Regions from separate parts of the Homo sapiens genome. Here region 2 is linked to region 1. Evidence: fine-mapped expression QTL. A gene starts in region 1. The other region holds a variant in brackets. All regions are shown on one strand. Distances are between the middles of the regions.

Region 1 (12,620 bases):
ACTCAGCAGAGGCACAGTGGTCAAGAACACAGACTTGGAAGAAGACATGGTTGGGATTCAAATCCCAGAGCTCTTCTACCTACTAACAACTCCTTCAAGATCATGAAGTTCCAATTTCTTCACCTGTAGAATGGGGATAATATAAATTATAATGACCACATGAGAACAAAGGATTCAGCACACTGACTGACATAAACACCCAAGTGGGTTTGTTTTGTTTGCTTGTCATCAGGCAGGGAACATGATCAGGACTACATTTAGGACAATTAATAAGCAGTATTCACAATGAATGACAAACCTAGAGATTAATGTCTCTTGCTGTGTATATGGCTGCTGGAAGAACTGAAGAAAGATAGAAGAAATCAGGAACCACAATGCAGTAAGATGACAAAAAAAAAAAAAATTCTAAGAAAAGGAGAGAGAGAAGAACCAAGGATGACCTTTTGATTTTGAGTCTAGATGACTAAGAAAATGCAAAGGTCATTAATATAAACAAGCAAGAAGAATCAGGCTTGCAAAAAAAGTTTAATTCTGAATCTACTGATTCAAGATTACAAAATGACAGCTACTAAGTTGATCAGGGAGAACAACATTGGCAAATCTGAAGCTTGGGAATGAAAATAAGGCTGATGATACACAAGTGGAAGCCTGAGCAAAGAGGGTGAGGGGAATGAGCAGTTGAAACCACGGATCTGTGTGGGATTGCCAAAGAAGAGAACAAACTCTAAAAAGGAAAAGAACTAAACCTAAGGTAACACCTACAGGCAACATCTATCTATACTTCAGGAAGTGAGAGAGAAAAACAAACAAAGGCCCCAAGAAGGGAGAGTTGGAGATGCCAGTTTGTGAAAGTCACCAAGACAGACCTTCACAGCATTTCACATTCTACAGCTCTTTCAATGCTCATTATAACTTTAGATTATAAACTGAACTGACTTCATCAATTGATAACATGATTATCATTAAAGGTTTTTAAGAGCCTGCAAGTTACTGAAGAGTGCTCAGTAGAAAACACAGAAGAGTGTTTTATGCAAATTAGTTTTTAAACTCCAAGAATATTTTAAGCTCTAGAAATCATACCTGATGCATGTCTTGTATCAAGACATAAAGTTGAGTTATTTCTGGCTACCCGTGCATAATGTTCCAAAAAGGATTTTCAGGTTAAACTGGAAAATATGCTATGTCTTCCCATCAGCAATACCTCTCATTAATTTTTGAGAATACACATACACATAGTGTTTGATTCACAATCCTTCCCCACTTCAACAGCTGAAAAAATCTTACCATATTCTAAAAACGTCTTTAGGGGGCTGAAATATTTCTGTGTCACCTAATTATAAAACCCACTCACATCCAACATCCAATGTTACGTTGACCGAGAGATAATCAATGGCAGATACGCCATTTAGGTATGAATCCAATTATCATCCTTAACAATTGCCAGTAAAATGTCAAAGCTTTTCCTGTATTTTTGGTTTCTTCTCAAATACAGATTACAACTGACCATACTTTATTAATGTTAGTATTTGTCCCATTTCTTTTTTTTTTTTTTTTTTTTTTTTTGAGACAGAGTCTCACTCTTTTGACCAGGCTGGAGTGAAGTGGAGCGATCTTGGCTCACTGCAACCTCTGACTCGCAGGTTCAAGCGACTCTCCTGCCTCAGCCTCCCGAGTAGCTGGGATTACAGATGCCCACCACCAAGCTCGGCTAATTTTTGTATTTTTAGTAGAGACGGGGTTTTGCCATGTTGGCCAGGCTGGACTCGAACTCCTGACCTCAGGCGATCCACCTGCCTCAGCCTCCCAAAGTGCTAGGATTACAGGCGTGAGCCACTGCCCCCGGCCGCCACATTTCTTCCAACTATGTAGTTGCCACATCTAGTGGAAAATGAAAAAAGATTAATAAACCATATTATGACACCCTATTGTCTGTCATTATGCATTTTAAGTGACTACCAAATATTTTAAAATACCAATAATTACATAAGTAAATTTTAATCCTTTTAGACTTTTTTAGGGCCCTCTTGGTATTCTTTCCAGCACACTAATTTACAAAAAAGTTCAACTACGTTCATAAAAATGTTTACTGATATGAGACTATCCTTCCGAGTTTGTAAGCAATACGCAGCTGTGAGAGCTACAATTTACAATAACATCCCAATTTACCATGGCACCCAGCAGTGTCTAAAGTAACACAAATCCCCATCTTCTTGGTTAACAGCATAAGATCAAGGAGTTTAAAATTTTAGTAATATGCCACCAGAAACCTCATCTAAAAAAATACCATTATAGTTTCACACTATATTCTCTAGACTATTTTAAATGCATGTGATTACATTCATGTAGTTATTCTGTAAGGAACATTTCAAAGAAAGCAGAAAAAACCGTAAGGGCAACAATTTTTCGTTCATAGGAGGTAAAACAAGAGCAGAAAACACAGGTTCTTGGATTAAGCACTCCTGAATATAAACACGCACTATTACAAAAAAAAAAAAAAAGCAATGGGATCTTGAGCAGTTCTTTTACTCAAAGCCTCTATTTATTACTCTATAGAATGAGAAGAATGTCATTTATGTTGTTATGAGAAATATATGAGCATATTATTACCAAAAATAACTAAAATGTCATGGATTTTTTTATTCCTTTCGAGCACAGTTTCCAAATCATAAAATACTACACAATTTGGCTTAAAATTTCAGGCTATGCATGTTTAGAACCAGACGTTGTTCGTGATTATCTTCCTCAGTTGTTCTTTCCCTGGAAGCTAGCACCAAGATGAACACAGTACATTTTTAATAAATACAAGCTAGTGATTAAATCAACAAAGCCTCCAGCTCTTCTGCACACAGAAATACAGTATGCAATGGGAATTTCCTAGCTTTCTGTCTTACTTAATAGTAGGCAGTGTAGTATCACCCCTCCACTTCCAGTTTACTCCCTATAGCTTACTTACCAAAATATTTAATCCCTGTTGCTTTTTTTTTCTTGTCTCAGGCTAGGGCCACTAGCTTTCTATCTTTCCTACCTTACCTTTCCTTCACATATTAGCTACTTCATGTTAAAGAAATTACAAGTGTTCAACTGACCATATGGAATTAAAATTTACTTAGAAAAAAATGAAATAAAAAAAACCAAAAAGTAAACTAATTCAGCAACTTTATGTTTTATGGAGTCATCTAGCCTCATGTAAACTACCATTAAGCAATACGTAAACATATTAATCTGCTTAATACGAAAGTAATGTCGTCTGGCCGCAGACATTCTGAAAGTTTTGCCACATTGTTTCAAAATATTGGCTTGTAGCCCTTTTCAAAGCTACTGATTATTGAAAACTTGGCGACCATGTTTAACAATGAAGAAAAGGCTTCCCCAAGCCTACGTAGATTGGATTCTCTAATACATAGTAATAATGTTTTTTAAAATAATGAGGTGTGTAATAAAATGGAGGAATATCCATGATGCATTGTTGGCTAATAAAACGATATACTGTACTATATATGATCCCAATCTTGTTTCTAAAGCACACTCATTAAATGCACAGAAAAAAAAAATCCTGAATAACTACCCACCACACTTGGAGACTGGCTACCCTGGGTAGTAAGAAGGAGAAATATGGGGGGAAGGGCGCGAGAGAGGGCAGGTTTCCTCATTGTTTGGCTGCTTCATGTTTTTCTCAAGGAGCAAGCAGTACTTTTGTAATTAAAAAAATAAATAGGGGAAAAACACTGCTAAAAGCATACTTTTTTCCTCCGTAGCAAATTCTTCTGATTTGTAATGTTAAAAATATATCTCTGGTTTCTCGATTCTAAAAAGAGGACACACGAAAACAAAATTATAGAAGTTCCAAAAAATCTTGGATTTGCAAAATTACTCCCTCGGGTTCTGCCCGTGGGTCCTCCCCATGCCGGTGTCTGAAATTCCCCAAGCAAAACGCGGGCACTGCACTTCCCCGGAACGGTAGTAGACGCTCAAAAACACAAAAAGAGGCCTTGGCGCCTGCTATAACCTCTCAGTCCCCTCCCAGCCCCCGAGACTTCCCCGAGTCTACGTAGACTGGATTCTCTGCCTCCAAAACCAAAACAGAAGTCACTGGGCGGATCCAAAACGGCCCTAAGGGGCCCGCGGGCATCTCAAGACGCCAGCCTCGGGACTCTGGTCCCCAAGCCCAGGTCAGAGCCGAGGACGAGCCGAGGACGGGCCGAGGACGCGGCGCCCCGGCCTCCCTCGGGCCCCCGACCTCCCCGGCCCCAGGGACCCCGGCTCCCGACCTCCAGGCTTCGCTGGGCCCCTTTCGACTCCCCGACCTCCCAAGTCCTCCGCCCCCGGCCCGTCCTTCCCCCAACCTGCCCCGCAGCGCCTCAGTTTCCTGGCCCCCGACCTGCCCGCCCTTAAGTCCCCCTGCCCCCGACTCTTCGGCTGCCGTCCCCCTGGCCCTCTGGCCTCCAAGCGCATCCCAGTCGCCCGCCCGGCCCTAGCACGCGGGACTCGCACACCCCACGACCCCGAGCCCCCACTGGCGGCGGCGTTACCTGTGGCGCGGGCAGCGGCGCGCAGGCCAGGCGCTAGGACTCGGCGGGGTCCGCAGCAGCCAGACGCCGCTACCACCACAATAACAACACGGACGCCACCGCCGAGTGGAGAGGCGGGGCCCGGACCCGCGACTGGAGCAGCCAGAGCCTCCCGGACTCCGGAGCCGCCGGGGTCCGGGCATGCGCAGAGAACCACGGGCACAGGGGCAGCTCCCCGCGGACGCCAAAGTCAACAAGGCCGGGAGACGCCCCCATCTGGCCCCGCCCCCCTCAGGGCTCGCTCCGCCCCCAAGCCCAAACAACGCGAGGCCTTGACAGGCCAGAAGACGATGGCGGTAGGGGAGATCACGCGAGAGCATGGCCTCCACCTCTCCTCCCCACCGCCATCTCCACGTTCTCGCACCGGCGCTGGGGTGCAGGCTTTCAGTGGTCTCAGGGCTACGGCTTGTCGGTGCCTCGCCGCACAGTCCCCTTTGCATTGAAGGACACGGTCTTACGGTGTAGGAGCATTTTTGAGGTGCATTCCTGGATTTGGAGGCGAACCCCCAATGGTTACCTCCACAGAGGCTTTGCGAAGGGCGCTCACTGACTTAGGTGAAGAGCGAAGGCTCAAGACTGTGCCGCTTTATAGTGGCCCCTTGACGTCCAGAAGTTCCCCCCAGCGCCGGTCATAAGCACTCCCGCCGCCTGGGCCCCGCCCTGCCTGCCAGGCGCCCTCCAGCCTCAGCTCCCGGACGCCCGGCGTGGCCGCTTTCTCGCGTCTTGCTGACCCGGGCCGGGGGCGTGTGCTCCTCCTGCAGCGGACGGAAGATGCTGGGCCACGCAAGTTTCCCTGGGCTTGGTTAACCACCCCAAAGCCCATTTCCAGAAGGAAAGGGTGTTGAGGAGGAGGGATAGAAAGTCGAGAAGAGGGCCGGGTGAGTGGCTCACGCCTGTCATCCCAGCACTTTGGGAGGCCGAGACAGGCGGATCACCTGAGGTCAGGACTTAGAGACCAGCCTGGCCTACATGGTGAAACCCCGTCTCTACTAAAAATACAAAAATTAGCCGGGTGTGGTGCCGTGCGCCTGTAGTCCCAGCAACTCGGGAGGCTGAGGTAGGAGAATCGCTTGAACCCGGGAGTCGGAGGTTGCAGTGCTGAGATGGCACCTGGCCTGGGCGGCAAGAGCGAAACTCCATCTCAAAAAAAAAAAGAAGAGGAAATGAGGCATAGGGGCAGGCGAGCCGGGAAAATATTGCTACTAAGGATCCTAAGCAGTGAACATGCTGTTAATACTTGTAAGACTCCTAGCAAACTGCATTTAATTTTTTAAATTAGTTTTAGTGTACATAAAGGCATGTCTTTTCCAAATACTGTACTTTTTGAAGTGTTCTTTGTTGTTCATTAATCTTTGTGCGTTTCCCTTCAGTCTCTAATAGTAGGTTGTAGCATGATTTGCTTCCATCGTGTGAATTCTGTTCGGTTTTGATTTTCAAGTATGAGAGTGAGCGTAAGCTACCCTTATAGGTTACCTAAGGTAAGTTAGAATTAGAACGTCTTTATGCTAGGGTTACTACTCCCCACCATAACCAACCATCTGCAAAAGCGTTCAGAAAGAACATGCTAGCAAGGTCAAAAGCTTCAAATCACGAAATAAGAACTTGAAAACGAGCAAAATTGCTGCTGAGGCGCTCTGCCATTTAACTCAAAGGCTTCACTTTATTTAGGTTTAAAGTATGAGTGCATATTCAGTGGACATTGAGCTCCGAACTGTTCAAAATCTCTATTCATCTGCATTCTGGAGTAGAGCTGCGGGTCACATTATTAGCTCCATCTTTGGATTTCTGCCTGGACCCAGGGCACTCCTAACCGTTGTGGGATCATATAACAATCTTACAGGATGAATTTTCTGTTAGTCCAAGCAGAAATTTTGGCACATGAAAACTATCTTACCATAAACAAACAAAAAAAGTACAAATGGTAATCTAAGGAAAATAGCTAAAATCATTAAACAACTCTTACAGCCGTTTCCCCTGTTTTCTCTCCATTTTTTAAAAGCATATTTTCCTTTACTTTCTTCCTTCTGCTATGGGAATTTTTCAGGGTTCTAGACCTTTTTTCTCTTCTGCGGCTGGAAAGTTAAACACAGGTCATTTTTTAAATAAGACTGCTAGTAAATACCTTCTTAATAAACAACACCAAATGCTAGTCTTGTGGGTGAGTAGTTGAACAGCAAGTAAAGCACTCTATCACCTGTAATTTTCCTGTGGTAGGCACACCCCATCTCTACCTTCACGTAATTTCTGATTATGCCTCCATACCTTACACATATAATTCATTTGTGGGTGGGGGCGACAGAGTCTTTTGCTCTTTTGCCCAGGCTGGAGTGCAGTGGCAACCTCTGCTCACTGCAACCTCCACCTCCCGGCTTCAAGCAGTTCTGCCTCAGCCTCCCAAGTAGCTAGGATCACAGGAGCGCACCACCACCCCCTGCTAATTTTTGTATTTTTAGTAGAGATGGGGTTTCCCCTGTTGGCTAGGCTGGCCTCAAACTCCGATCTCAAGTGATCCACCCGCCTCGGCCTCCCAAAGTGTTGGGATTACAGGCATGAGCCACCACGTCTGGCTATAATTCACTTCTTGTGTGTGACTTCCTACTAATTTGTAATCATGAAAGTTGGGCACATACCCAGTATGCTCACTATTTCTCTGCAGGGCCTGATACAGTGGCTGCTACAACACTGATACTCTGCATTTGTTGAATGAGTAATTTAAATTTTAAATTATCATCTAGAATCATTTAGAGATTTATTTAGACTTTGATAAATTTAGATAACCCACACACAGTTTATTCCTAGAGTTCTTGATACATTGTTACAGTAAGTTTGGTCCTGGCAACAGCAATAACACTTACTGTAATAACTTAATTCTTCATACGAGGTTGCTTCACTTTTATTATTAAGCAGAAAATACCCAAAGTAAAATTGAGCTATTTGGGACTCCTTTCAGAATACTGTGTAGGCTGAAGCATTGTTGTATCAGAAGTGCTCTGTTATTTGAATGCATAAGGTATTCAACAAACAAATGCTTATTAAATTAAATGGTATTCAGCATACAGCTACTGTCACCGTGCTAGGAGTTCACATTTTTCATATGCGTGGCAGTTAGCACTGGTGCATGTTTCCTTCAGCCTCAGAAATGGAGGTGTCTGCGTGTTGCCCAGATCTACCTTGAAAACTCTAGTTGCTTCCTAACACCTAGGTTGTATAGTGGGACTTGATTATGTTTTATAAAGCCAAGTCTGGTCTGTGAGGACTGAAAGGATTTCCTCATCTTAACTCTAATTTGGCCTGCAATGTCTGGGGAAAACCCAAAACTAAAATGTAACTAAATGTGGAACTGTTTTTTTCTGCAGTTTGATTTCCTTGTACCATTTTCAGTACAGTTAAATTCATCACCTCCCCTACCTCACCATCCCCCTCCCCCTGCAAAAAAAAAAAAAGCAAAAACAGAAGTATTTTCTCTCTTAAAGAGAATTGTCATTGGCCAGGCACAGTGGCTCACGACTATAGTCCCAGCCCTATAGGAAGCAGAGGTGGGAGAATCATTTGAGCTCAGAAGTTGCAAGATTTCAAGATCAGCCTGAGCAACATAGTGAGACCTCATCTCTGCAAAAAATTTAAAAATTACCTGAGTGTGGTGATGCATGCCTGTAGTCCCAGCTATTCCAGAAGCTGAGATGGGAGGATTACTTGAGCCCAGGAGTTAGTTTCTAATTGGATGTAGTCTGCACAGGCAGATTTCATTTTCAGTATTAAAAAGGTCAGTAATTTCTGAAATATTCACTTGACAATTAATAGGATTAAATGACTTTGGGAAAGCATAATTTTATTTTAAATTGCACATATAATCCCTCAATTACATAGATTTTAATGCTAGGATAATCTTCCAATAAAAGGAAATATAAGTTATCAAAAAATGAATTTCTTTTAGAAAAATAAGCATTTATAATTTATTGTCTACAGTAAACAAAAAGTGACTTTAACTCACAAGTTAAAATTACTCTTATATGGTGCTTAATCTATATAAATATCTTTCCTTTATTAAAAATTCTGCTTCTTAAAAAACAGAATCATGGAGTGGAGAAAAAGGAAAACTTCTGCTTGTAAACTTAAGTGCATCAAAACTGTGGATAAACATCTTTTTAATGTATATGTAAAATTTAATATTTTTTAAAGAATCTATTAAAGTTCAATAAACATTTTCTGACACTATGATAGATGCTGAGGATATTGCAATAATATATGATATAGCTTCTGTCTTAATAAACTTACATTCAAATAATAGAAGGAGGAAAGTGACCCTTGACATAATAGTAAGGGTACAAATAAAATACTCTTGCTCCATAGTAGTGTTCCATGGCAGAAGTCAAATTTGAATCAAGCTTTGAAATTTGAATAGAATTTTTGAATTATGGAGATAAAGAGAATAGCTATTTTAGGAACATGGAATATAAAAGAATAACGCTTACATAGATCATTTGTTTTCAAAGAGCAGAGATTAATCTGATTTAGCTAGAACATAGAATGCAAAAAGGATAATGGGAGCTAAGCCTAGAAAGATAGACTGCAGCCAGATTTTGGTGGTCATTAGATTGGATGCAACAGCCAGCAAGGAGCCAAAACTTAAGTGTTCACTTTTATGTAAATGTAGCTGACGCAAGTACCTTGTATTAGAACTAAAAATTATGCTGTATATAACTATTACTGTAGTTAGGTGAAACCATTTCAGAGTCTGCTTTAGTGATTCATAGTGTAAATGAAGTTACTGTGTTTATGTGTGTGTGTGTGTGCACATTATATGTATGTATGTGTGTTTTTAAGTATGACATTTGAATTCTGAAATGAAGATGAAAAAGGCTTTGGTCAGTAAACCTGTCTTTCTTGGTCAGATACTGAACCACAGTAGTAAGTCCAGGCACTGAAATGATAATTCATATGTATGGATTCTTCTTGGCTCTAGGTTGATGAACAGAGCAATTATGAAGAGTTGACTAGAACCAACTGATCTTTTTTTTTTTAATTCCACTAAATAGAATAGTTTGCTAAAAATAATAGTAAAAATAGGAGCTGTGACAACAAATTCATTATTAGGGCAGAACAGAGACTTTGAAATGAAAAATCCTAAAACAAAAGCTAACCTCGATAATGAACTCTTTTTTCAGCAAAAATACCTCAAAATGTTATTTCAATTCTGTGTTCCTTCAAGGAGATATTTACAGAGCGTGATCCACACCAAAGTCCCTGGAAAAGTGTTCAGTGTTGCCCAACTTGAAGGTCATGGCTAAGTGATAAATGTAGTCTAAAAAACACAGGTGGTTGGATCACACTGTTTCCACTGCCCCTGCTGCCAGGACTAGCTATAAACCAGTGTGTAACATGAGCAGCATGTATTGCAGCTATCCTCCCTCCTTTCTTTTCCGTAACCTCAGTAAGCAGTGCCCTCAGGCTGCCTGCAGCTGTGCGGGTGCCCCCTCTATGGTGTCATCCATGCCTTCTCCATCAGTGCTGTCCTTTGACCCCACCTTTCTTCTCCTAATCTGCAATGTGTCCTGCTGGACACAGGACTCAGCTAGAACCATGTTAGAAAGACCATGTGATAAAAAAAAAAAAGTTAATGACAAGATACTTAATATATGAAATCAGCTTTATTTCCCTCCAGGAATATTTTTATTTAAACAGTTCTTAAAAACTCAATCTACAATTTTTACAAAGGAATTAAATAATGATGTTCTATTACTTATAAGGAATTTGAGGCCTCAGGAGTAAGCTATAGCTAGATTGTTTTAGGCAGGAGGACTTTCTGTGTTCTTAGCTTCCCTTGGTTTCTAATTAAAAGGTTGGAAAATGAGATACATCTCTGACATATTAGTTTATATAGTTGGCCTTCCATATCCATGGGTTCCACACCATAGAGTCAACCAACCACAGATGGAAAATATTCCCCCCAAAAATGGATGGTTGCATCTGTACTAAATGTGTAGACTTTTGTTTGATCATTATTCCCTAAACAATACATGCTGAATTTCCTACCAGAGACAAAAGCTTCAGTCATATTTTTTATATACTTATATCTTAGGCAAGACTTTAATAAACCAAGAAATGGTTAATTTTCACAAAATATATGTTAATAGACCATTAATGCCAGTGCATGAATTAGCTTATGGTTTTTGTTCCTAGCTACCGTTTTTTGTTGTTGTATTTTTTGGAGACAGAGTCTCACTCTGTTGCCCAGGCTGGAATGCAGTGATGTGATCATAGCTCACTGCAGTCTTGAACTCCTGGGTTTAAGCAATCCTCCTGCCTCTGCCTCCTAAGCAGCTGGAACTACATGCATGTGCCACATCATGGAGCTAATTTTTAAATTCTTAGTAGAGATGGAAGTCTCATAATGTTGCCCAGGCTGGTCTCAAACTCCTGGCCTCAAGTGATCCTCCTGCCTCAGCCTCCCAAAGTGCTAGGATTACTAGTGTCAGCCACCGTGCCTGCCCCTAGCTACTGTTTAAGTTCAGGAATATCAAAGAAAAAAAGCACCAGACGACTGGGCACGGTGGCTCACACCTGTAATCCCAGCACTTTGGTAGGCCGAGGCAGGCGGATCACGAGGTCAGGAGATCGAGACCATCCTGGCTAACACGGTGAAACCCCGTCTCTACTAAAAATACAAAAAATTAGCTGGGCGTGGTGGCGGGCACCTGTAGTCCCAGCTACTCGGGAGACTGAGGCAGGAGAATGGCGTGAACCTGGGAGGCGGAGCTTGCAGTGAGCCAAGATTGCGCCACTGCACTCCAGCCTGGGCGACAGAGTGACACTCCATCCCCCCCCCAAAAAAGAAAAAGAAAACAAAAGCACCAGACAAGGTAAACAGGAAAGGAAGACTTCATATAACATTTACATTATATTAGATATTATTAGTAATCTAGACATTATTTATCATATATGGGAGGATGTGCATAGGTTATATGCAAATACTACCGTATTTTATATCAGGGATTTGAGCATCCAGATGTTGGTATCCAAGGGTGGGAAGTCCTGGAACCAACCCCCTATGGATACCGAGGGGCAACTGTATTTTTATTTTACACCTTTTTCTTTTCCCCTAATGTATTTTAGCAGATAGCCAATTGTGTGATTCCTTGCCTTGGTGATGTAATGAAGTTTTTGGCAGGGCAAAAAGCAGACTTTTCTTGTACAGCAATGACCCTAATTTCCTCCCGACACTATAAATGGAAAAGAGGAATATGGATTCATTGAGCAGTAAAACAAGCCAAAATCTGTTTACCAAACAGCATCATAGCAGGTGGCAAAACCTCAGGGGAAATGGATGCATGCTACACATAGGCAGGAGTTTTCCACTTGGGGTTTCCACCTTTGCCTCATTTCCTCATGCCCCACATGTAGAATCGAATCTGCAGAACTTCCAGAACTGAAGGGTCCATCCCAGCTAGGACAACAAGCCTCTCACAACCAATGGCTTATGACCCACAGAGCCTCCTCAATGATTTGACTATATGTGAGATTCCAGAATATTTTAATCATCCTGTAGATAGGAGACCTGAGAGTATAACTCAAAGAAAAATTTCTCGTTTGTTTCAAAAAATATGAGCTCAAAGTCAAAAATAATTTATTAATTATTTTTAAAAATTTAAATAATTAGAATATACTTGGCTTACCAGATTTTCTAAACTGAGCTATCCTCTTTGACTAGGCTATATTACCTTATGATCTAAAACTTAAACAATCTCTTGTGGTTGTTTAATGACATTCCAACATGTCATGAGAAAATATTCTTGGAAAGCTGTCTGGTGGTCAGGGGTTCTCAACACCTCTACTTTTGCTTGCCACGTACTTCAGACGACCACACAGCCTGGTTTGCTCAAGTCAGTCCCAGTTTATGACTGTTATCCTGATGGAATGACTAATGGTTTTCCATGTCACTCTCAGAAGTGTCCAGGTTTGGATGATAAATTATATATATATATCTCTCTCTGCGTATAATTTATATATAAAAATTATAATGTATATATAATATATATCATACATACAGATATA
Region 2 (8,000 bases), 100 kb before region 1:
CACCTCTCCAGCAAGGGCACAGCGCTGAGCAGAGACTGAGATGGATGAATTAACAGAAGTAGGCTTCAGAAGGTGGGTAATAATGAACTTTGCTGAACTAAAGGAACATGTTCTAACCCAATGTAGAGCAGCTAAGAACCATGATAAAACATTATAGGAACTGGGCACAAGGACTCACGCCTGTAATCCCAGCACTTTGGGAGGCCAAGGTGGTCAGATCACTAGAGGTCAGGAGTTCAAGACCAGCCTGGCGAACATAGTGAAACACCGTCTGTACTAAAAATACAAAAATTAGTTGGGCGTGGTGACTGACACATGTCTGTAATCCCAGCTACTCAGGAGGCTAAGGCATGAGAATCACTTGAATCTGGGAGGCAGAGGCTGCAATGAGCCAAGATCATGCCACTGCACTACCCTGGGCAACAGAGCAAGACTCTGTCAACAACAACAACAACAACAACAAAAGATGGAAAAAAAAGTTACAGGAGCTGTTGACCAGAATAACCAGTTTAGAGAGGAGCATAAATGACCTGATGGAGCTGAAAAACACAACATGAGAATTTCACAATGCAACCACAAGTATCATTAACCGAATAGACCAAGCAGAAGAAAGAATTTCAGAGCTTGAAGACTATCTTGCTGAAGCAAGACAGGCAGACAAGATTAGAGAGAAAAGAAAAGGAATGAACAAGACCTCTGAGAACTATGGGATTATGTGAAAAGACGGAACCTATGACCGATTGGGGTACTTGAAAGAGATGGGGAGAATAGAACCAAGTTGGAAAACATACTTCAGGATATCATTCAGGAGAACTTACCAAACCTAACAAGACAGGCCAACATTCAAATTCAGGAAATCCAGAGAACCCCAGTAAGATCCTCCATGAGAAGATCAACACCAAGACACACAGTCATCAGATTCTCCAAGGTCAAAATGAAGGAAAAAATGTTAAAGGCACCTGGAGAGAAAGGCCAGGTCCCCTATGAAGGGAAGCCCATCAAACTAACTGCAGACCTCTCAGCAGAAACCCTACAAGCCAGAAGAGATTAGTGGCCAATATTAAACATTCTTAAAAGAATTTCCAACCCAGAATTTCATATCTGCCAAACTAAGCTTCATAAGCAAAGGAGAAATAAAATCCTTTTCAGACATGCAAATTCTGAGGGAATTCATCACCACCAGGCCTGCCTTGCAAGAGCTCCTGAAGGAAGTACTAAATATGGAAAAGAAAAACTGTTACCAGCCACTGCAAAAACACACTGAAGCACAAAGACCAATGACACTGTGAAGCAACTACATCAACAAGTCTCCAAAATAACCAGCCAACATCATGATGACAGGATCAAATTCATACATAATAATATTAATCTTAAATGTAAATGGACTAATTGTCCCAATTAAAAGACACAGAATGGCAAGCTGAATTAAGTCAAGACCCATCAGTGTACTGTATTCAAGAGACTCATCTCGTGCAGACACAGATAGGCTTCAAATAAAGGGATGGAGGAAAATTTACTAAGAAAATGGAAAGTAGGAAAAAGCATCCTAGTTTCTGACAAAACAGACTTTACACTAACCAAGATCCAAAAAGACAAAGAAGGGCATTACATAATGGTAAAGGGATCAATTCAACAAGAAGAGATAACTATCCTAAATGTATATGCACAAAATACAGGAGCACCCAGATTCATAAAAAAAGCTCTTAGAGACCTACAAAGGGACTTAGACTCCCAAAAAATAATAGTGGGAGACTTTAACACCACACTGTCAATATTAGACAGATCATCAAGACAGAAAATTAACTAGGATATTCAGGACTTGAACTCAGCTCTGGATCAAGTGGACATGATAGATATCTACAGAACTCTCCATCCAGAAAACAACACAATATACATTCTTCTTGGTGCCACATGGCACTTACTCTAAAATCAATCACATAATTGGAAGTAAAACGCTCCACAGCAAATGCAAAATAACTGAAATCATAGCAAACAGTATCTCAGAATACAGTGCAATCAAATTAGAACTCAAGATAAAGAAACTCATTCAAAACCACACAACTACATGTAAATTGAACAACCTGCTCCTGAATGACTCCTGGGTAAATAACGAAATTAAGGCAGAAATCAAGAAGTTCTTTAAAGCCAATGGGAACACAGAGACAATGTACCACAATCTCTGGGACACAGCTAAAGCAGTGTTAAGAGGCAAATTTATAGCACTAAATGCCCAAAAAGCTAGATGCGGGGGTCTGTCCTGCAGACCCTGACCCAATGATGGATGAATAAAGTACACTGACACACAGATACTCTGCTTTGCCAGTTCAGCTGAGTGTCTGGGCCACTATTTGCAACCGTGGCCCCGACTTGCCAGTGAGACTTACATTTATTCAGTAAAGATTAATTGACAAAGGTCATGACTAAACACACCTGTGGGTAATTAACCTGGTCACCCCGACCCTGGAGAGAGACATCGTGCACCCGCAAATGATCAAAGGTTGGTCTTAAGACCACATGAGTAAATAAGCTCATTAGGTAAACTCCCCACATTCCTTTGTACTCACTTTAAGCTATTTACTTAAGGTAAGGATCAGGTTGCCTTCAGCTATAATCCTTACTAAAGCTATGCAAATTTCTCGGCCTTCCAAGAAGGTTTGTGGCTATTACTATAACTATCTTTAATATTTTTCCCACCAGCCTGAATGAACCCCCACAACTAGAAAGATCTCAAATTGACACCTTAACATCACAATTAAAAGAACCAGAGAACTAAGAGAAAACAAACTCCAAAGCTAGCAGAAAACAAAAAATAACCAAGATCAGAGTGGAAATGAAAGGAATAACCAAGATCAGAGTGGAAATGAAAGGAGATAGAGACACACACAACAACAACAACCAAAAAAAAAAAAACCTTCAAAAAAATCAATGAATACACGAGCTGGTGTTTTGAAAAAAAAATTAATAAAATAGACTACTAGCTAGACTAATAAAGAAGAAAAGAGAGAAAAATCAAATAGACACAATAAAAAATGACAAAGGGGTTATCACCACTGACCCCACAGAAATACAAACAACCATCAGAGAATACTATAAACACCTCTATGCAAATAAACTAGAAAATCTAGAAAAAATGGTTAAATTCCTAGACACATACACCCTTTCAAGACTAAACCAGGAAGAAGTCAAATCCCTGAATAGACCAATAACGAGTTCTGAAATTGAGGCAGAAATACATAGCTTATCAACAAAAAAAAGCCCAGGACCAGATGGATTTACAGCTGAATTCTACCAGAGGTACAAAGAGGAGCTGGTACCATTTCTTCTGAAACTATTCCAAACAATTGAAAAGGAAGGACTTCTACCTAACTCATTTTATGAAGCCAGAATCATCCTGATACCAAAACCCGGCACAGATGCAACAAAAAAAGAGAACTTCAGGCCAATATCCTTGATGAGTATCAATGCAAAAATCCTCAATAAAATACTGGCAAACCAAATCCAGCAGCACATTTAAAAGCTTATCCACCATGATCAAGTTGGC[A/G]TCATCCCCAGGATGCAAGGCTGGTCAACATATGCAAATTAGTAAATGTCATTCATCACATAAGCAGAACTAAAGATAAAAACCACATGATTATCTCAATAGACACAGAAAAGGCCTTTGATAAAATTCAACACTGATTCATGTTAAAAACTCTCAATAAACTTGGTATTGATAGAACATACCTCAAAATAATAAGAGCCATTTATGACAAACCCACTGCAAATATCACACTGAATGGGCAAAAGCTAGAAGCATTCCCCTTGAAAACTGGCACAAGACGAGGATGTCCTCTCTCACCACTCCTATTCAACATGGTATTGGACCTTCTGGCCAGGGAAATCAGGCAAGAAAAAGAAATAAAGGGTATTCAAACTGGAAAAGAGGAAGTCAAAATGTCTCTGTTTGCAGATGACATGATCCGATATCTAGAAAACCCCATTGTTTAAGCCTGAAAGCTTATTAAGCTGATAAGCCCCTTTGGCAAAGTCTCAGGATACAAAGTCAATGTGCAAAAATCACAAGCATTCCTATAAACCAACAACAGACAAGCAGAGAGCCAAATCATGAATAAACTCCCATTCACAATTGCTACAAAGAGAATAAAATACCTAGGAATACAACTTACAAGGTACGTGAATGACCTCTTCAAAAAGAACTATAAGCCACTGCTCTAGGAAATAAGAGAGGACACAAACAAATGGAAAAACATTCCATGTTCATGGATAGGAAGAATTAATATCATGAAAATGGCCATACTGCCCAAAGTAATTTGTAGATTCAATGCTATTCCCATTAAACTACCACTGACATTCTTCACAGAGTTAGAAAAAAAACTACTTTAAAATTCATTTGGAACCAAAAAAGAGCCTGTATAGCCAAGACAATCCTAAGCAAAAAGAACAAACCTGGAGGCATCATGCTACCTGACGTCAAACAATACAACAAGGCTACAGTAACCAAAACAGCATGGTACTGATACAAAAACAGACACATAGACCAATGGAACAGAATAGAGATCTCAGAAATAAGACCACACATCTACAATCAGCTGATCTTCAACAAACCTGACAAAAACAAGCAATGGGGGAAGGATTCTCTATTTATTAAAAGGTGCTGGGTAAACTGGCTAGCCATATGCAGAAAATTGAAACTGGACTCATTATACAAAAATTATACCTTATACAAAAATTAACTCAAGATGGATTAAAGACTTAAATGTAAAACCCAGAACCATAAAAACCCTAGAAGGAAACCTAGGCAATACCATTCAGGACATAGGCACAGGCAAAGATTTCATGATGAAAACATCAAAAGCAATTGCAACAAAAGCAAGAATTGACTAACGGAATCTAATTAAACTATAGAGCTTTTGCAAAGCAAAAGAAACTATCATCAGAGTGAACAGACAACATACAGAATGGGAAAAAATTTTTGCAATCTATTCATCTGAGAAAGCCTAATATCCAAAATCTGCAAGGAACTTAAACAAATTTACAAGGAAGAAACAAAACAACCCCATTAAAACCTGGGCAAAGGACATGAACAGACACTTCTCAAAAGAAGACATTTATGCAGTCAACAAACATATGAAAAAAGGCACATTACTGATCATTAGAGAAATGCAAATCAAAACCACAATAAGATACCATTTGATGCAAATCAGAGTGGTGATTATTAAAAAGTCAAGAAACAACAGATGCTGGCAAGGCTGTGGAGAAACAGGAACCTTTTTACACTGTTGGTGGGAATGTAAATTAGTTCAACCATTGTGGAAGACAGTGTGGTGATTCCTCAAAGACCTAGAACCAGAAATACCATTTGACCCAGCAATCCCATTACTGGGTATATACCCAAAGGAATATAAATCACCTAGAATCAGAAATACCATTTGACCCAGCAATCCCATTACTGGGTATATGCCCAAAGGAATATAAATCATTCTATTATAAAGATACATGCACACATATCTTCACAATAGTTAAGACATGGAATCAACCCAAATCCCCATCAATGATAGACTGGATAAAGAAAATGTAGTACATATACACCATGGAATACTATGCAGCCATAAAAAGGAACAAGATAATTTCCTTTGCAGGGACATGGATGGAGCTGGAAGCCATTATCCTTAGCAAACTAATACAGGAACAGAACACCATACACCACTTTTTCTCACTTATAAGTGGGAGCTGAACAATGAGATCACATGGACACAAGGAGGAGAAAAACACACACAGGAGCCTGTGGGGGCAGGGCAGGGAGGGAGAGCATCAGGATAAACAGCTAATGCACGTGGAGTTTAATACCTAGGTGATGGGTTGATAGGTGCAGCGAGTCACTATAGCACACATTTACTTATGTAACAAACCTGCAAGTCCTGCACATGTATCCTGGAACTTAAAATTAAATTAAATTTTAAAAAAAGATATCTTCCTGAGAAAATGTGAGGTACAAGTAAATAAAATAATTATTACTATAACCAACATTGGGAAGTGTAAAAATATAATAATTGATTGTTGTCTTGGGCTGGTGCCATGAGAGCTGTCTAGGATTCCCATGCAAACAGAGTTATAGTCCCTACTTGGTGGCTGCTTTTAGCTAACTTGGAACATTTTAAAAATAAATTCTCAACACTGCAACAGCTTTTCAACTATACTTGTCTTTAGAGTTGGCCAAAATATAGACCATGGCAAAATCAGCCTCTCTATAACAGGGCAAGGTGAGCCAGGAAGGGAACGGCTCCAGGTAAGGAGGCATTCTGATCTAGGTATGAAGAACAAACCATTTTACTGTGCACCTACATCTGGCTTAAAACAAGGGTGCCAACTAGAGAGATGGAGATCTTTGTAAGTTTCTCCCTACCCATGCCCAACCCTCACAGCATTACAGGATTAACCATCACATCAGCACTCAAATATTTCTCATATCTGCTTGTCAGAATATTTAGCCTCTAATTCTCTTTTCTCCCTTAGCTGATTTTCCCTAGAAATTTTTGTCTTTGGAATCTATTTTCCTCTTTGAACAGGCACATACCACAAGCCTTTTCTGTAAAAGTAGTCATCAACACAGGTGAGGTAGTAAGTGAGGCTTACAACTAAAATCGTTTCAGTCCAGGCAACTCCCTGTTAAACACAGAGTGGTCCACAGCACTCTTAGAATGGAGGGCCTGCCCCATGTCAAACTTTCAAATGGGCAATATTTTCAGCACCCCTCAAGTTTCACTGGGCCAATTGGCTCATTCCTGCATGCAACATATTTTATGTTAATATCCCAACATAAAATATGTTGGTATGTAAAATATTTTATGTTAATATATTTTATATTGTCTATCTTCTCTGTTCTCTGCCCTGAAGGAACTCAGTCTCTCAGAAAGACAAGTTAATAACGCTAATTCCACGTGGTATATTCCCTGATTCAGATAAGACAGGAAAGGTGTGTCACGCAGCCTGGGAGTAACAGGGAGAAGAAAGGCTTCCCCAAGGTGAGCTCTGAGCTGCTTCTGCAGAACAAGCACAGGCAGACTCAGTGTGGAGAAAATGGCCAAGGATGCATTCCTGGCAGGAAGAACTGTTGTGGGAAGTCAGGGACCCTGAACGGAGGGACCAGCTGGAGCCACGGCAGAGGAACATAAATTGTGAAGATTTCATTTTAATATGGACACATATCAGTTCCCAAAATTAATACTTTCATAATTTCTTATGCCTGTCTTTACTGCAATCTCTGAACATAAATTGTGAAGATTTCATGGACATTTATCAGTTCCCCAAAATAATACTCTTATAATTTCTTATGCCTGTCTTACTTTACTCTCTTAATCCTGTTATCTTTGTAAGCTGAGGATGTACATCACCTCAGGACCACTATTGTACAAATTGATTATAGAACATGTGTTTGACAATATGAAATCTGATTGTAAAACACGGGTGTTTGAACAATATGAAATCAGTGCACCTTGGAAACAAACAGAATAGCAGTGATTTTAGGGAACAAGGGAAGACAACCAAAGGTCTGACTGCCTGCGGGGTTGGGCAGAATAGAACCATATTTTTCTTTTTGCAGAGAGCCTATAAATTGACGTGCAAGTAGGAGAAATATCACTAAATTCTTCTCCTAGCAAGGAATATTAAATATTAAGACCCTAGGAAAAGAATTGCATTCCTGGGGGGAGGTCTATAAACAGCCGCTCTGGGAGTGTCTGTCCTATGTGGTTGAGATAAGGACTGAAATACGCCCTGGTCTCCTGCAGTACCCTCAGGCTTATTAGGGTGGGGAAAAGATCCCGCCCTGGTAAATTTGAGGTCAGACCAGTTCTCTGTTCTCGAACCCTGTTTTCTGTTAAGATGTTTATCAAGACAGTATGTGCACAGCTGAACATAGACCTTCATCAGTAATTCTAATTTTGCCCTTTGCCTTGTGATCTTTATTGCCCTTTAAAGCTTGTGATCTTTGTGACCAACTC

The links. PIP is the estimated chance that this variant, and not a neighbour inherited with it, causes the effect.
Region 2: its variant is fine-mapped to the expression of PCMTD1 in whole blood (INTERVAL, PIP above 0.99).

The regions. Positions count from the first base shown.
Region 1 is chr8:51,894,401-51,907,020 of GRCh38, forward strand. It overlaps PCMTD1 (protein-L-isoaspartate (D-aspartate) O-methyltransferase domain containing 1), which reads right to left and starts at 4,636. Exons shown (of 6, transcript NM_052937.4): 1 at 4,530-4,636. PCMTD1-DT (PCMTD1 divergent transcript) reads left to right here and starts at 4,915. Exons shown (of 4, transcript NR_189279.1): 1 at 4,915-5,446. RefSeq lists a silencer at 4,143-4,832 and enhancers at 4,873-5,162, 5,333-5,392, 5,693-5,752.
Region 2 is chr8:51,793,449-51,801,448 of GRCh38, forward strand. All of the region lies in intron 1 of PXDNL (peroxidasin like), which reads right to left. Among named protein-coding and RNA genes, the nearest start is that of PXDNL, 12 kb to the right of the region's middle. The variant A/G (reference allele first, on the strand shown) is at 3,542.